2 separate regions of the Homo sapiens genome follow, and region 2 is linked to region 1. Evidence: fine-mapped expression QTL. Tissue or cell type: blood mononuclear cells. Region 1 holds a variant in brackets; the other region holds the start of a gene. All regions are shown on one strand. Distances are between the middles of the regions. Region 1 overlaps RNPC3 (RNA binding region (RNP1, RRM) containing 3). Region 2 holds the start of RNPC3 (RNA binding region (RNP1, RRM) containing 3).

Region 1 (8,653 bases):
ATTCTGCAGTAATAAAAGAAACTAAAATTTTTCAGTGGCTTACAATAACCAAGTTTCTCATGTTCAACTAGGATCAACAAAGGCACTCTTATTAGTCCCTTTGTAATGTCACAAAAACTTCATTTTGACACATGCTTTAGCAATCGGGAACTCCCCAAAGTAAAACAATCTTTCTGCTCACATTTCACAGCCAAAACAAATCACATGGACATTCCCAAATTCAACAGGATGGGAGTATTTCATTTGCAGGGCGGATCACTAATATTTATGAACAATAGTATATTGCATATATGAGATCAGAAATAAAAACTAACAGGAAAAATAAAAGAATTTTCATTGGAGTGAACATTTGAAAAATAAGAAATGCGAGTTTAAATATATAAAGAAAAATACAATATATAGAGCTTCTCACCTCCATCCTTTCCTTCGATAGCAAGACATTCAATTTCTTCCAAGTTTGTATGATCATTTCTATGCATGTTTTTATGACTTACTTCATCTAATGTTCCCATAAATAACATATAATGGAATTTTATGTAGTTACCTTTTTCTAAGCTTTGAAAAGTTTCATAAAACTGCTCACATCTTCTTAAATTTTGGATATTCAAAGATCACGGTATACAAATACCATATTAAGTGCTATTTTATAATTTACAAAAAATTAAAATTTCTTATGTAAAATACTTTTTTTTTTTTTAATCTAACTCCATCACTGAAGCTGGAGTGCAGTGGCCCAATCTCGGCTCACTGCAACCTCCACCTTCGGGTTCAAATGATTCTCCTGCCTCAGCCTCCCGAGTAGCTGGGACCACAGGCATGAGCCACCATGCCCAGCAATTTTTTTTGTATTTTTAGTAGAGACGAGGTCTCATCGTGTTGGCCAGGCTGGTCTCAAAATCCTGACCTCACGTTGATCCACCTGCGTTGGCCTCCCAAAGTGCTGGGATTACAGCCGTGAGCCACTGCACCTGGCCTCTTTCTTAATTTCTAATTGATAACCTTTTAAATAGATACAACCACCTCAAGTCTTTATATATTAGTCACAGATGTTCCAGTCTTACTTGATATCCTGGCTTTTTCTTCATTGCTTAGACCTTGTGCATGTTGGGTACAGGGTATATATTTCCTGATGCTTATTCAATGTTTTGTGTGTATGTATGTATGTATGTATGTGTGTGTGTGTGTGTGTGTGCGCGCGCGCACGCTTTAAGATTTCCTATTAGCTTTTAAATGGACGCTCTATATACCGTTTGTTTTCAGAAAATATAGGGTGGGACATTTTGCAGCTTAAGTACTTGGGATGAGAACTCTATTCTTCTTGAAAATCATCAGTTGTATCTCTTAGGTGTCTGACACAGGGGGTTAGCTCACATATCTACTGAATAATCCTACTGAGGTCATTATTTGTTAGCATGAATTACTAAAGATAATTAAATGTAATAAAGTATCTTACAGTTGACACATTAAAGAGCTTTCCATTACTCACAAAAGGAAGTGCTGTCTTCTCACAGGGTAGTAAAGATAAAATAATTACAAAAAGCACTCAGCACAGTTCTTGTTGAGATTTCAAAATTCATTTAGATAATGCTTTCAATCTCCTAGGTTCCCAATTTCTTGAATTCATCTCCTTCCATCACCTTGCCTCTATGCTACTCCCATCCTCACATCCTAAAACTTATAATCACTAAGTACTATATACTTAGTACTATTATACTATACTTAGTATACTATACTTAGTACTATTATACTATACTTAGTATACTATACTTAGTACTATTATATATTATTATACTCTAATTTCAATTTCAGCCACCCCACTCTTATTTAAATCTCCCAAATTTCTAGTTTGTACCTCAAGAACTCCAATGCATCTTCAACCACACTGCAATCTACAATTGATGATACCATTTTCCACTGTCTCAACCTTCTTTATTTTCTCACTTCACTCCTTAACCCAGATTACTTTCCATATCTCTCTTTTATTATCTTTCTCTTAAATGTAACAACATCTCATCACTGTCTTATTCACCTAGGGAAATCTCAACTTTAGTTAAATTGAATTCTGTACTTTTTCAGTGATAGCACCTATGCTGAACTCAACTGGAGAAAAACACAAAACCACATTGACTGATACCACTTAAATAAACCACAGATTGCCTAAGAGTATGTTTACTTTCCTACATTCCTGGATACCCATTTTACATCTCCTTTTCCTTCCTTAATCCTTCATGACTTCCTCCCTCTTTATGACCTTGTTTCCTATTTCTCTGAGAAAATATAACAAAAATTTGACATGCTCCTATTTACTGAACTACCGACATCTAGAACTCCATAATCTGCCCTTCATCCTACCGTTACTAATGAGCTGTTTGTGTGCCTATCTTTAAAACGAACCCTTCTATTTGTATACCAGGTCTATGGCTTCAGCAATATCCCTCTCTTTCCGGCATTATGTTTTTTCTCTCTACTGAATCAGTCTGATTAGCATACAAACCTGCTATATCATCAATCTTAAACAGCTTTTTGATACTACATTGCCCTCCATTAACAACCCATTTCTCACAACCCCTTGAACGCAAGACTCTTTAAGAGTTGTCTTCGATACTCACTATATTAAATTCTTCTTCAAAATTCTCTTGAATACCCTTACTCCTGACATCCACCAAGTTTGTCAACGTCAAGTTGACAAAAAAGAATGTTTTCCTACGTATATACAGCTGAAACTCATTTCATTAAAGGAACAGAATAATTTTATGTGGGAAATATTTTCACCTTTGAGTGACGTTCTGACAGATGAAAGATTTGGGGGAACAAAAATGGAAGACTGTATTACAGCAAGGATACAAATTTCTAAATTGGGATAAACCCCCATTTCCAAAAAACCAAAAGCCCAGTAAAACTCAAAGCCAGACAAATATAAAATAATTACAAAAAACAAGATTACAATAAAAAAAATGTGAAAGTGCTTTGGTATCCAGGTAAGAATTTTTAAAAGGCAGTATTTGTAATCATAAAAAAATTATATTACAAATTATATATATTTTTTATAATATTATGTTTTCCTAGATGTGTTAAACCAGATAAAGAAAAAATACAAACACTATTTTATTGGAAAGGAAACAATTTATTATATTTGAGGAAAATCATTAAAATACATGTAATATGTTTCCAATTCACTGATTTAAAGGCATATAGATTTAATTTTTAAATACACTTTCAAAGCTGTTACGCACAGTTCCATAGTCCAGGTGGTCAATTTCTTCCTCTCAAAGTTAGAAA[G/A]CACTTGAAGGACACGGGATTCAAAAAAACCTAAAACATCATAAAAGCCCATTAAAAATAGGAAGTATAACACAGGTCATTAGTTTAAAAATAACTAAGAGCTGAACCATTTATATTTAGAAAATTAGTGAATCATGTCAGTATAACAAAATTTATCTAAATAAACCGCTTATAAAGAAACTGATTTATAACATTTACAAAATCTTTTTAACTATGCCTACAGAAAAATAATTACATTTTCAAAATCTATAGGTTTTGTACTTTTAAGGTGATAATAACCGAATTTTCAATTGTTTTCACAGATCTAATAATAGTAGCAGATTTTTCAACAAAGAAACACAGAGGCTCCAACCCTTTATTTTCCTAGTTATTAATATAAGGTTGGATGGCTAGGTTGATACTAGGTACCTAATCATTTTACTCTAACAAAGCAGTGTCTAAACTGGTCAGTCCTTAAAATTACTAAAGAAACCTTTTCAAATCTGATTGTTATACTCCATTCCCAGAGATTCAGATGTATTAGTTCTAGGGTAGAGTACAGGAATCTTTATGCATAAAAACTCTTCCTTGGTGGTTCTCGACCTTGTTTGTATATTAAAATCAGTTTGAGAGGTTTATTCCAACATCTGTGCTACACTCCCAACACCTTAAATCAAAATTCTGACCAAAGGAACCAAGCATCAATATATTTCTTAAGGATTTTTTTAGGAGGGAGAGGGTCTCACTCTGTCACCCAGGCTAGAATGCAGTGGTGTGATCATGGTTCACTGCAACCTCAACCTCTGGGGCTCAAGTAATCCTCCTGCCTTAGCATCCCAAGTAGCTGAGACCAGAGGTGCAAGCCACCACACTTGGCTAATTTTTGTATTTTTTGTAGGGACAGGGTCTCCCTACATTGCCCAGGCTGGTCTCAAACTCCTGGGCTCAAGTGATTCTCCCATCTCGGACTTGCAAAGTGCTGGGATTACAGGTATGAGCCACTGCACCCTTTTAAAATTAGTATTTAAGTTCCAGATCACTGCAATGTGCAGCCAAGACTGAGAACCACTGTTCTTGGTGATTACGGTCATCAACCAGTCTGGAAACCACTATTCCTATATACCTGCCAAGACTGTTTTTCCTTAATGCACTACCCTTAGTGGGCATTATGTGTTCTCCCCTCTATTACGCTTTTCTTCTCTTGTTTAGAAAAAGAAAGGGGAAAGAAGAAAGATACTTCTATTGCTATCTATGTCAAAAGAGATTCACTAAGACTTCAGATGAGAGGTCTGCTACTCTCTAGAATTTACATAGTAATCCAGACATCTTAATTTTCAATGTAAGTACTTTTTAAAAGAAAAACATTTCCTTTGCCCAAATTTTAAACACATTATAAATACCTAAACCAGATATATTACACAACAGAAAGCATATGTTATTGAATTAGGTTTAGGAAACATACAAATAGAAGAAACAAGACTGTATTCTGGGTTAAAGTAAATGAACACATTCTCTAAGTAAGTTGACCTGATTCACTAACTTTCCCTCAAAAAATTATATAAAGGACAGCACAGAAAATTCAACAACAAATCTAAAAACACATAAAAGATCTGTTCAGTCTATACAAATAATTTTAGAAATATTTCATTTGAATAAAGTGTAAAAAAGTATTCCTTAACCTGGATCAACAGGTGGGGGAAGGACAAACATTTCTAGGAAAAAAACAAAAAAACACTGCCCCAAAAAGGATACGACAAGAAAGGATACACTTTGCATGACAGTATTACAGCAGTATTTACGCAGGAATGCTTCTAAAGAAGAACAGCAGAATGCAGTTTAATTTTTTTCTTATTTTTCAGCACCAGATTTAAAATAAATGATGTTTAAAAATACAGACTGAAATCCATCTTTCCTCTAAAGTGTTTATAAGACTTGTGACTACCCAGTATAGACGTACAACAAAATTCAAATATTCAAGCCATCTCAGAAGGACTAAATATTAAACAAAATTTTCCCTTATTTACCCATATTTGGCAGTTAAACACCAGTAATTGTGACCAATTACTTCGTGTTCTTTTAGTTTACAGAGGAACAAAAATTTAAATAAAAAACAAAGGAATATATTTCTACTTATTTCTTGAACAATGTAACAAACATTAACATTTAAAATGCTTAATTCTACCATATTTAATCATCAAATTAAGTATGCACTAAAATTACCTGTTTTAAAGACAAAAAATATTTAACTCCACAAACACATATTGTTGTGAAATGTGTTAATAATTTTATATACTCAGCACTGTAGATTTTTTTTTTTTTTGAGATGGAGTCTTGCTCTGTTGCCAGTGTGGAGTGCAGTGGCGTGATCTTGATCTCGGCTCACTGCAACCTCCACCTCGCAGGTTCAGGCGATTCTCCTGCCTCAGCCGCCCACGTAGCTGGGACTACAGGTAGGCGCCACCACACCCAGCTAATTTTTGTATTTTTAGTAGAGAGTCGGTTTCACCATGTTGGCCAGGATGGTCTTGATCTCTGGACCTTGTGATCCGCCCACCTCCACTTCCCAAATTGCTGAGATTACAGGGGTGAGCCACCGTGCTCAGCCAGAATTATTTTTAATGACAGTTTGACTTTTTTTTTTAACTTTTATTTTAACATTTACTTTAGGTTAATTTTAAGAGTTAGAAAATGTATCTGTAAGTGTTTATTCCAGGAGTTTTCAAGCTGTGGTCTCTGGATAAGATGCCTCATCATTACCTGAAACCTCATTAATCTCGCAAATTTTCAGGTGCCAACAAGGGTGACCGACCTGTCTTGGCTTACCAGACACATTCCCCATTTCAGCACTAAATGTCCAGCATCCTGGAAATCCCCTCATTAAAAGGAAAACTGGTATAAACAGTTTCCCTAGGTCCCCACATCAGACCTACCAAATCAACTCTTTCAGGGAAGGAAGGAACCTACGAATCTGTGTTTTATTAGGCTCTCCAAGTGATATGATACATATTAGGGTTTAAGAACCATTGCTTTACTATAGGCAGAAAAAGTTAAAAAAAGAGTAACAGGCACACTCCCCTTATAAGATTCATTCTCCAAACTTAATTTTCACATATAAATGGGTTTTAATCTGTAGTTATAGTTTTGACGTTTAATGGGACTTAACTGCACAGATAGGTATTTCCTCAAAAAAAAAAAAAAAGAGATACCTGAATTACTACCTTGTCAAACTTTTATTCTTAATTTTATCTCAAGAATTAGTCTTGTCTTTTTATTATGTTTTATTCACACTTACCTTTATTAATTTTTAACACTTTCTTTTTCCTTCCTTAGGATCTTGTTTTGGTCTAGCAGATCGAGCAAACTGCTAATAATTTAAAATTAAGGTTTCCTTCATGAATATGCAAGTAATCTTTTCTAAATAATTCTCAAAAACTTTCTAGTGTATGGTGGGAGTATGGTTTTTTAATTTACCTTGAGTGCCTCCTGCCTCTCTTCATGACTTGAGAGGAAATTAATAATTAACTTTTCCTTTACAGTCATTATTTTTTATACCTGGGCCTTTGCTTCTTTACCTATCTTGCTGATTTCTAGTTTGCAAACTGCATTGACTACTAAAAGCAAGATGGTTAATCAATGATATACTCTAGTTATTAAAATTCTCATGTAGAAATATAAATTACAATAAAATGATAAAATGAATTAGTTCTTTTATGACTCCAAATGTACTTCTGGATACTCTAGTCTCTTAGCATGCCTATGTACTTTTGAGCTGCATAAGTGAAACATTTAAACTTGGCTGAAATTGAACAACCTCATGCTGCTGAAGCTCTTTTATTAAAAATCTAAATAACACTGTCATCTGACTCAGTAAGGTGGGTTTAATTGTAACGAATGAATATCTACTGCTAGAATGCCAATTGTGGAAATTTCTAAAGGGTAACATGAAAATTAATTTCAGTTATATCCTTCTAAAAATTATATAGTTTTGAAATAGATGGATTTAAAGGATACAACCACCATGGGTTTTCCAAAAAGCACATATCCATTAGCTTCCTTTAAGGCTTTTGCTGCTGCTTTTTCATTAGGAAGTCCAATGAAAGCTTGTCCTTTCATACGACCTTCTTTCATCAAACGTATATCAAACCTAGAAGGAAGAAACAGTTTTGATTCAAAGAATGTCAGTTTCAATGTGAATGAAAATGTGTTGAATAATCTAACATTTTGCTATTTCAAATAAAAGTGACTACACTATTTGATAGGCACGTCAATTATTCAGTTTTCTAAAAATATATTTCATGTTCTGCACTAAAATTGATTCTACAAGTAGGTAGTATTTGTTTAAGATATACTTTTAACTATTCTCAACTATCATAAAAGTATGTGATTTAAAAATTATACTATTAGCAACTAGAAAACCAAACTTCTTTTTTTTTTTTTTTTTTTTGAGACAGAGTCTCACTCTGTCACCCAGGCTGGAGTGCAGTGGCATGATCTCCGCTCACTGCAAGCTCCATCTCCCAGGTTCACGCCATTCTCCTACCTCAGCTTCCCAAGTAGCTGGGGCTCCAGGTGTCCGCCACCACGCCTGGCTAATTTTTTGTATTTTTAGTAGAGATGGGGTTTCACCGTGTTAGTCAGGATGGTCTCGATCTCCTGACCTCGTGACCTCGTGATCTGCCCGCCTCGGCCTCCCAAAGTGCTGGGATTACAGGCGTGGACCACCGCACTGGCTGCAAACTTCTTAAATTACTATTTATCTCAATTTTTTAAGTTCCTTACAATCTGGCACTATCTGCTCAAGTGATTAAAAAAACAACTACTACTACATAACCAAGAATGGAAAAATAGAAAGGATTAACAGCCAGTTATAAGCAATTATAGAATTCATTATATTATTATTATTATGATTATTATTATTTTTGAGACAGAGTCCTGCTTGGTTGCCCAGGCTGGAGTGCAGTGGCGTGATCTTGGCTCAGTGCAACCTCCACCTCCTGGGTTTAAGCGATTCTCCTGCCTCAGCCCCCCGGGTAGCTGGGATTACAGCCGTCTACCGCCATGCTTGGCTAATTTTTGTATTTTTAGTAGAGATGGGGTTTCACTATATAGGCCAGGCTGGTCTTGAACTCCTGACCTCAAGTGATCCCCCCCGCTTCGGCCTCCCAATGTGCTAGGATTACAGGCATGAACCACCACACCTGGCCTAGAGTTCATTATATTATTATAAGCAATTACAGAACTTCGGAGTAGAAAGGAACCTCAATGATTATCTAATTAAAACCATAATTTTACAGGTGATGTCCAGAGACAGTGAGTGACTCTTCAAAGCAGATAGCTAAGATCTAAAGTCAGAAACACAAACCAAATTTTTAAATTCCTAATATAGTGATCTACT
Region 2 (8,653 bases), 28 kb after region 1:
CTCCCTTCAGTCTAGTCACAACAGCAAAAGCAATTCTTTGAAATACCAAGGTCACCCCCTTGCTCCAATGGCTCCCTATTTTACTGACAGCAATCTAAGTTCCTTACTATAATCTACATAATATAGATTCTATGACTTCTCTGACTTCAAATCCAATGATCACTCCCACTCCTGCTCCCACAGATCACTCCCACTATGTCTGCTCCAGTCACAGTGGCTTCCTTGAACAACGTGACAGGCATGGTCACATCCTAGAGCCCCTGTTCCAGCTGTTCCTCTAATTCAAAGGTACTTCTCCCAGAAATTTCATTAGCTAACTCCCTTCGCATCCTTCAAATTGTTGTTCAAATATAACCCTAACTACAGCCTGACCTCTCCCCACTTAGCACTCCTGATCTTATTGCTCTACTTGTCCTTTTTCCATAGCATTTATCATCTTCTAAAATATTAAAGTTTATTATTTATTGTCTGTCTCCCCTTTTGAGAATATGAACTATAATCATCTTTGTCTTCACATATAATCCCAAAACCTAAATCAGCATCTAGCACATAGTAGGTACTTAATATTTTTGAACACATGAAAGTACAAGCCTTAACCAGAGACCGGTTTTGTGCAAGACAATTTTTCCACAGGCTGGGGTGGGGGGTGGGGAGAAGATGGTTTCGAGATGAAACTGATTCATCTCGGATCATAAGGCATTAGTCAGATTCTCATTGAGAGCGCAACCTAGATCCCTTGCATGTGCAGTTCACAACAGGGGCCAAGGCACTGCTGATCTGACTGGAGGTGGAGCTCAGGCAGCCAGGCGGAGTCGCCCTGAATAGAGATAAAGCTTCCTCAGCCTGCCAGTCACCTCCTGCTGTGCGGCCCAGGTTCTAACAGGTGGTGGTTAGGTACCAGGCCGTGGCTGGGTACCAGTCTGTGTCCCAGGGTTTGAGGATCCCTGCCTTACATCATCATACAAAGTTAATTTTAAAATGTTTCAATAATTTTCAAGACCCTAAATGAACTTTAGACCTCTTTATTATCAGTGAAGCCTTGATTATCTGAAATGAAGGTCATCTAACCTGACTTACTCCAACTTTCTTCTTCTCAAATGGGTATCACATATGTTCTTATTTTCAAAGATTTATGGTTTTTCATTTTTAATGTTAACTCCTCCTACCTGACTCGGCTACTTACTCTATTCTTGAACATTTCTCCCTTTGTTTTCTTAATCTATCACTTTCCAATTAGGCCAAATGCTCTCTAGCCTAAAAGCCCTATCAATATTGCCGTTAACCTCTTACTGCTTCCTTTCACTACAGACATTTCCAAAGACAATGACTGGCTCCATGTCCTCTCCTCCAAGTTATTCTTGACCCTAAAACAATGCGTTTTTCATTACCATACTTTATTTACAATGTATTATGATATATTTTTAAAAATACTTTTTTTCTGAAAAAAAATTACCTACCATTATAAAAGTACATATTAATATAATATGAAAGCCCTCTGTAATCCTACTCTCAGAGAAAGATGTTTTTAACATTTTGGTGTATAGTTCTGCCATATTTTTTCTGTGTATATGCTAACATGTATACTATTAGTTTCAAAAAATCTGAGGTTACATCATATATAATGTTTCACAACTTTATTCATGTACTCTATCTGGGCTATCATTCCATATTAACACATACCATTTGACATCATTCTCAGACAGTTGCAGTCCAGTATATGGATATAATGTGATTTAAGGCTTCCCTTCCTTTTACCGATGAGAATTTGGGTCATTTCTATTGTTTCATGGCAAAAAGACTTTAATAGATGTGTTCATTCCTCATTTTGCATCATCACAGGATTTCATCTTCTTAAAACACACTTCTCTTTGCATCAGTGATAATTTCCTTTCTAGTTCTCCTACTTTAACTGCTCCTTCCCATTCTTCTCTCCTAGCTTATTATCCTTTGGGCAAACATATCTATTCACATGGTTGAAGAATCTTTCCATTCTTCACCTTGCCTCAGCTCTCATTAATATTTTTAAATATTTCCATAAAAGTAGCCCAATGACCCCTCCAAGTTAACAGATGACAAGTGAATTCATCCTATGCCTTTGCAAACATCCTCTGGATCCTCATGTCAGCTAATATAACAACCCAAATAACTCAATCCTCAATCTAAATATCCTGAACTATTCTCTCTCAACCCCTATATTATAAAACCTACAAACTCAATCTCTATTGAATATATATTTACTTCCCCCTTTGTCTTCTTACTGTCTTCTTCAGATAGTTATTCTTGCCTTGGCCATTATAACAGCCTTCCATTTGGTCTCCTACCTCTAATAATTCTGCACATCCAATCCATGATATGAACTATACCAGATATCTTTAACAGGCCTGATCATATTATGAGCCAGCTCAAAAGTATCAAGTGTCCACCTACTAAACCAAACTCAATACCTCTCTCCCAGACTCAAATCTATTTTTCAAGTTCCATTTCCATCTCAACCCTTAGCTCCTGCTCCACTTATAACTTCCAATGTCTCACAGCTTTATTTGGTGTTCTGCAAGCCCAGAAGGCCCATCTCCACTTGTTTCCTTCTGAAAAAATCCAATTAATCATTAGACTTCTAGCTAAAAGATCACCTCCTGTGAATGATTCCCTGGCATTATAAAGAAATGTATATTCTCCTTTTAACACTTGAAACATCTTACCTTGTAACAGTCACAGAGATATTTATCAATCTAAATCATTTAGAAATTGTTATTTTAATTACATACGCAGTTAGTTTTTCTTTATAGATAATCTACTAAAGGACTGGGCAAGATCTGCCAACTGACAAATCAAATGTAGTCTGTTGGGGAAACTGTTGGAATACAAACGCTTTTGCTTCTTAAAAACCACAGTTAAACATTATCTGAACCAAGATTGTATAAGAGGATCCTGTTGACAACTTTAATCGTCAAGAAAAAGTCATACCTTTATAGCTGCTTTTTCATTAGGGAATGTGGCAAAAGCTGTATGTTTCTGAAACAGAGTTAAGGTACAAATTACTTCCAATATAATTTCAGTTTCTCACAAAGAAATCTGACTTTTTACCAGTGGAGTAATGTGACATGTTAATAAAATCACGGGAAAGGATGAAAACTCAAGACCATTTAACTGATTACTAATTTCAGTCCAGTGGTTTTCAATACTTTTTGAGTCAGACTTGAGATGAAAGCTATGCAACCTCTATCATATAAAGACACACGTTTTACACATGCAAATAGTTCAAAAGACCAAAAGTTTAAAGACCTGTTCTACACAGAGGGTCACTTTTAACCAACTAAAAATTTATTTCCTTCATTTATGACAGATCTAAAGATTTTAAACTTTCCTCTATACATAACAATGCGTAGTTTAAAAACATTCACCAACAGAGAAATCGTTCTTCAAGGTGCATATTTCCTTTGTGCTTTATCTTTGTAATAATGTTCAATGGGAGAAGTCTATTTTTAAACATAAATTATACGGATTTTAAAAACCATCAGAAAAGAAACACAAATCAACAGTAAAAGAATCACTATGCTAAGGAAGAGCTCTGGTCAATGCTTATTAAAAGTTACTTTAATAATTATATCGCACATTCTAATTTTGTCTAATCTGATACACGATGACCTGATGTACTTAAATTGAGCCATATATAATTTTTTTTTTTTAATTTGCAGGCATAAGTGACATTTAAACTGATCAAAATTGGTCTTTCTTCTAATTCAGTAACTCTCAACTTGGGCTGCACATTAACATTAAAATCACCTAGGGAAACTTTAAAACCACTGAGTCTTGCACCATCGCTATTCCTATTTTAATGAAGAGAAATCTAAAATATCTTTGGATATAAAGCAAAACAAAGTAATTGTGTAAATTCCTACACAGGTACTCTTAACAGCCCTAAAAAATTGTTCCCTAAAAGATGTCATCGGGAAATTTTTATGAAAAGCCTCTTTTTCTAGTTGAAATTCTGCATTTAATTTACGCAAGTCACCAATGTAGCTTCTCCTCTATTTTAATGAACGATTTAACATTGGCTTATAAATGAAGTAGGACTTTAAAAAATCCCTTGATGCACATTTGTAAGAATACTCTTGAGTCCAGGAGAAATAACCCCAAATTCAAAAAAGTTGTGAGGCTCTCAGGATGGATCCGAAAACTCAATATAACTAAGCTAATTTCCATTCTTCTGCTTTGTCGTTCTCACTTGCCCTTTTCTGCAGTGCTATGACTAATCCAGACTCGAGCCGATTAAAACTCCACTTCGCAGAGCAGATATTTTGATAAAAAAGAGGTAGGATGGGGGAGCTCTCATCACACAAGTCCATCTTCCCCACTCGTTTCCATTTTACTCTTGTCAGCGCTCCCCCTCCCCGGTCACTTCCCAAATGCCTTCCCGGGAGACTCCGGAGGGGCGCGCCCTTACCAGTCGCCCCTTATCTGACAGGACCCGCACAGACTGAGCCCCGAAGTACTTCAGCAAGTCCTCTTTCTCCTCAGCAGTAAGCTCAGCCGGCAGGTGCCTGACCAGAAGGGTTCGGTCGCCCCGAGGCGGGGAAAGCGAGGAGGAGCTCGTGCATCCCCTTGATATCGCAAGCGGCTGCTCGGGAGCTGCCATTTTCCTTGGAGAAGCAAAAACAGAAATCGTGGGAAGAAGTCTCAGTCAAAATCGCGGCATCAACACAAGCTGGGAGAAATATTTTTTCCGCCTCGCGCTAAGGATTCTGGAAACCAGGAAATACCGAGAAAGAAAGTCACCTTCTCGCGAGAACTGCGCCACCGAAAAGCGGCAACCCTTCGAAGACTCTTCGGGGAAGGGCGCGGTGCTAATGATTTAAATTCCAGGGGTCTCCGGAAAGACTTACAAGCAAAAATTGGCCCAGAGATGTGCGAGGGTTAACACAAGTTGTCAATCAAAGAAGGAAACAGGAACCCCAGCCACTTCAGGGAAAGAAGGTTGACGCTCAAGGACAAGAGGACTCACGACTGCGCATGTGCGGGCTGGGACCGTCACAGGGCGGGGCGGGGCGCACGGCGGGGCGGGGCGCACGGCGGGGCGGGGCGCACGGCGGGGCGGGGCGCACGGCGGGGCGGGGCGCACGGCGGGGCGGGGCGCACGGCGGGGCGGGGCGCACGGCGGGGCGGGGCGCACGGCGGGGCGGGGCGCACGGCGGGGCGGGGCGCACGGCGGCGAGCGCTATCTGGAGCTGACCGTGCGGCTCTTAATCCCTGGCCTTGGGAAAGTGAATTGGCCTGAATAGCAAGGAGGAGAACTTGGGTGTGGAAATACCGGGTATGTTCTTACAGTATTTAGATGGTAAAATATAAAGCTAGCCAGTTATTCTGTCAACTCATTAGACACCATTGTAGGGAGGAGAACTCAGTTTAAGGGGCAAAACGTTGAGAGTTCAGACTTTTTTCTTGAATCAGTAGGCATTTAGCAGACGGATAGGCCCCTGCCAGGGTTCATTTCGCAGAAATGGCAGCCTCTAGGGAGAGGTAACCTAATAAATAAATTATTGCATGTGTGTGTATGTGTGTGTGTGTAGGGGTGTGTGTGTGTGTGTGTGTGTATGTGTGTGTGTGTGTAGGTGTAGGTACTTTTCTCCCTATTTTACAGCTGAGGACACTGATGTACAAAGAGGTTAAATCACACAGCTAGAAAGTGGAAGAACTAAGTTTTGACCCTTGGTGTTCTGACTGGGGGTCTACATTCTAATCCACTGTTCTGCCTAGATTCTGAATGGAGTGAGGCAGGGATCATCCCCGGAGGGTCAGGAATGTACCCCTCACCCCATACAGAGAGGGCCTTGAGGATTCTAAAGAGAGGTTTTATGCTAGATGTAGCTGCTACAGTCTGGAGAACCAGAGTTCCTCTTACAGTTCTTTTTGCCACTTAAATAAATGTTAGAGATACAGCAGTAAGCAGTATACCAGCAATCTGCTGTCATCCCGCATTGGTTGGGGAAAAGGAGAGAGACAGATATTAATGAAAACTAGAAGACAAACATGAGAAGAACCTTCCCCACACACCCACCAAAATATCAGATAGGTAGAGCCAGACCACGTAGACGCTGTAGATTTGTTAGGAGCCCTTTTTATTTGAGGAACATTTAGAAACTGACAAATTCTTTAAGTAGGTGTGTGTTGAGGGGAGAGAATCAAAGTTTAGGTATGAAAATTTCTCCGGTTGCAATGCAAAAAACAGAAGCAGAAAGACCAGTTGGACTACTGTAGAAGTCTGGAGAAAAACACTACCATAATAGTTTGGTGAAAGTGGACATGTAGAGAAGGAACTGGAATTGAGATACGTTTTAGAAGTAGTTGATAGGAACTTGCAGATGAAGAATAGTAAGCAAGGATAAATTCTGGATTTTTGGCTTAAGCTAGATATTATCCATCTGTAGATGATGATGCCATTTACTGAATGTGAGAAGATTGACCAAGTATAGCTAGGTTAGAAACTGTAGTGGGACATTGGGAATAGAGGAACATATATTAAGTTTAAGGTATCTATTCAGTATCCCTGTTTCAAGTAGGAAGTTGAATGTGTGTGTTTGGCATTCTTGGGAAAGGTTACCACGAGGTATGGCATCAACCTATATGGTATTTATATCTGAAGAATGACAAAGGGTATAGATAGAATTGTGCCCATAATGGAGTCATGGGACATGCAGATGTTGAGAAGTTGAGGCAAGGAAGAAGAAGAAGACAATCAATTCCTGCCCTCTCAATGCTTACTTTCTAAAATCAAGACAGAATAAATATGTAAATAAAGTTCTTTTCAGAGAATAATAAGTGCTTTGGAAAAAATAGGGTAGTGTTATAAACCGATTGGAGTGGTCATGCTATTTTAAACACTATCCTTCAGCGGCTTTTTTGTGTGTGTTCTTTGAAGACTTGTTTGGAGCTTCTAGCAAGGGAGCACTGCTACACGTATGCCCTTACAGAAAAATCATCCTCCTTTATGGGGGTAAGTCATCCTCCTCAGCCGAGTGGGCAGCTTTGGAAGAGACATATATGGGGCAGTTAGGAAGGAAGGGGAACCCAGCTAGTTAGCCAGATCAGCCAAATCAACTGTTGGGATCAGTTGGTGACAGGTGTCATGCAAAATGACCGTCACATCCTCCCTGTGACTCTTATGTTTAGTAAAATGTTCCAGACATAGTGCACATTCTGTAAATATCTATTCAATGAATGAATGCATGAAGGAATTCACTTTTATATTTACCACTGCCTCCTACGGTTAGGAATTACTACAGGGGCTATCAGGCAGAGTTTAATGGTCATTATCTACTGTAATTCAGGTATCATGACTGAGTGGAATAGTTACATGACAGAATTTTATTTTCTCTCTACTTAATTGCTTTTAGTTGTACTCAATGAAATCTACCTTATCCTTTCCTTGACAATATCTCAGGTAGAGGTCATAATTTTCTAGTCACTTTCAGTTGCTATCAGTACAGTTGGTTAGAGATGTCAAGTCCAAACTCCATTAAGGTGTCTCTTCTTACACTCCCCTCATATCAGGCTTGACCTAAAGGATTGCAGGAATATGTAATACACTCTAATCTTTTCTGTGTCTGAGTGTAGGTATGTGTGGTCGTATCTGAGAAGTACCTTTCTCATTCCCTCCTCTTTGTCTAGCCCAGAAGTTGCCAAACTTTTTCAGTTATTGGTAGCTTTATTGTCCCAGCAGTTTTTTCTAGCACCCCTTGATGCCACCTTATTTCCTATTCCACTCTGGTTTTCCAGGAAGCACTTGTTTTATATGAGAGCAACAGCCAAAAACCCAGCTTTTCAAATATATGACATTCTTAAAAGGAATTAAACAGTATCTAATGTTCAAATTGAGAAACATCTCAAGCTGGTAGTTCAGGTAGTGTCTGGTAAACAGTGAGTATTGCTATGTTTCCCTCAAATATTTAAAATATCCTATAGTACCTCTATAAGGTGGCAAGGGTACCTGGGGCACCTTAGCACAGTTTGAGAACTGTGAATTTAACTCATTTTCAGTCTTGATTTTCTATGTTGGGGAATGGGAGGCGGGAAAAGTAGTGGAGCTTGGGAGTGTCTGACTTCACTGAGCAATTGTTGGTTCTTTATCTCATTCTTATTCTCAGGGGTTTTGTGTGTTGATGGAGGTCCCCGCTAATGTGGTGGTTTTCTTGGGTTAATTTTCATCTTCATCAGTTCCTCCATGTTACTGAGTACCTTCTCAGACAGAATTACCTTTTTTGCTTCCTTTGGTTTATGTCCCTAGTTTTCCTCACTTGACCACATGGCTACTTGTACTTCCCTATTACATCTTCCCTTTTACCCCCAAACTCCCCATTTTTCCGCATGAAGACAGGAAAACTGCTGGGTCCTATCTCTGGCATGCTTTGGAGAACTACAATAGGGAGAAGGGTTGATCCCAATATTTGTCCTGGCTTCTAGCCAAAAGCATTCCCCTCACCCTTCATAGCCAAGCTTCTAAAGAGAGAGACATAATTATTCTTATTTCTTCATCTCCCATTCACTCCAAAGTGTGCTCCTGACTTCTGATCCCATCAGTCCACAAGGTAGTTCTTCTTAGGGTCACTAGTTACCTCCCAGTTACTAAATCTAATAGGCCTTTTCAGTTCTCATTTTA

What was found. PIP is the estimated chance that this variant, and not a neighbour inherited with it, causes the effect.
Region 2: RNPC3 starts here. The variant in region 1 is the best candidate, but not a certain one, in a credible set for the expression of RNPC3 in blood mononuclear cells (TOPMed, PIP 0.87).

The regions. Positions count from the first base shown.
Region 1 is chr1:103,549,690-103,558,342 of GRCh38, reverse strand. RNPC3 (RNA binding region (RNP1, RRM) containing 3) reads right to left here. Exons shown (of 15, transcript NM_017619.4): 13 at 7,270-7,402; 14 at 6,551-6,622; 15 at 3,104-3,309. The coding sequence ends at 6,563. It also overlaps a transcript of AMY2B not described here. Among named protein-coding and RNA genes, the nearest start is that of AMY2B, 18 kb to the left of the region's middle. RefSeq lists a silencer at 635-853. The variant G/A (reference allele first, on the strand shown) is at 3,280.
Region 2 is chr1:103,522,054-103,530,706 of GRCh38, reverse strand. RNPC3 (RNA binding region (RNP1, RRM) containing 3) reads right to left here and starts at 5,008. Exons shown (of 15, transcript NM_017619.4): 1 at 4,445-5,008; 2 at 2,965-3,012. The coding sequence starts at 4,636. It overlaps RNPC3-DT (RNPC3 divergent transcript), which reads left to right and starts at 5,199. Exons shown (of 4, transcript NR_168321.1): 1 at 5,199-5,311. It also overlaps the pseudogene RN7SKP285. RefSeq lists an enhancer at 4,557-4,796 and a silencer at 5,117-5,216.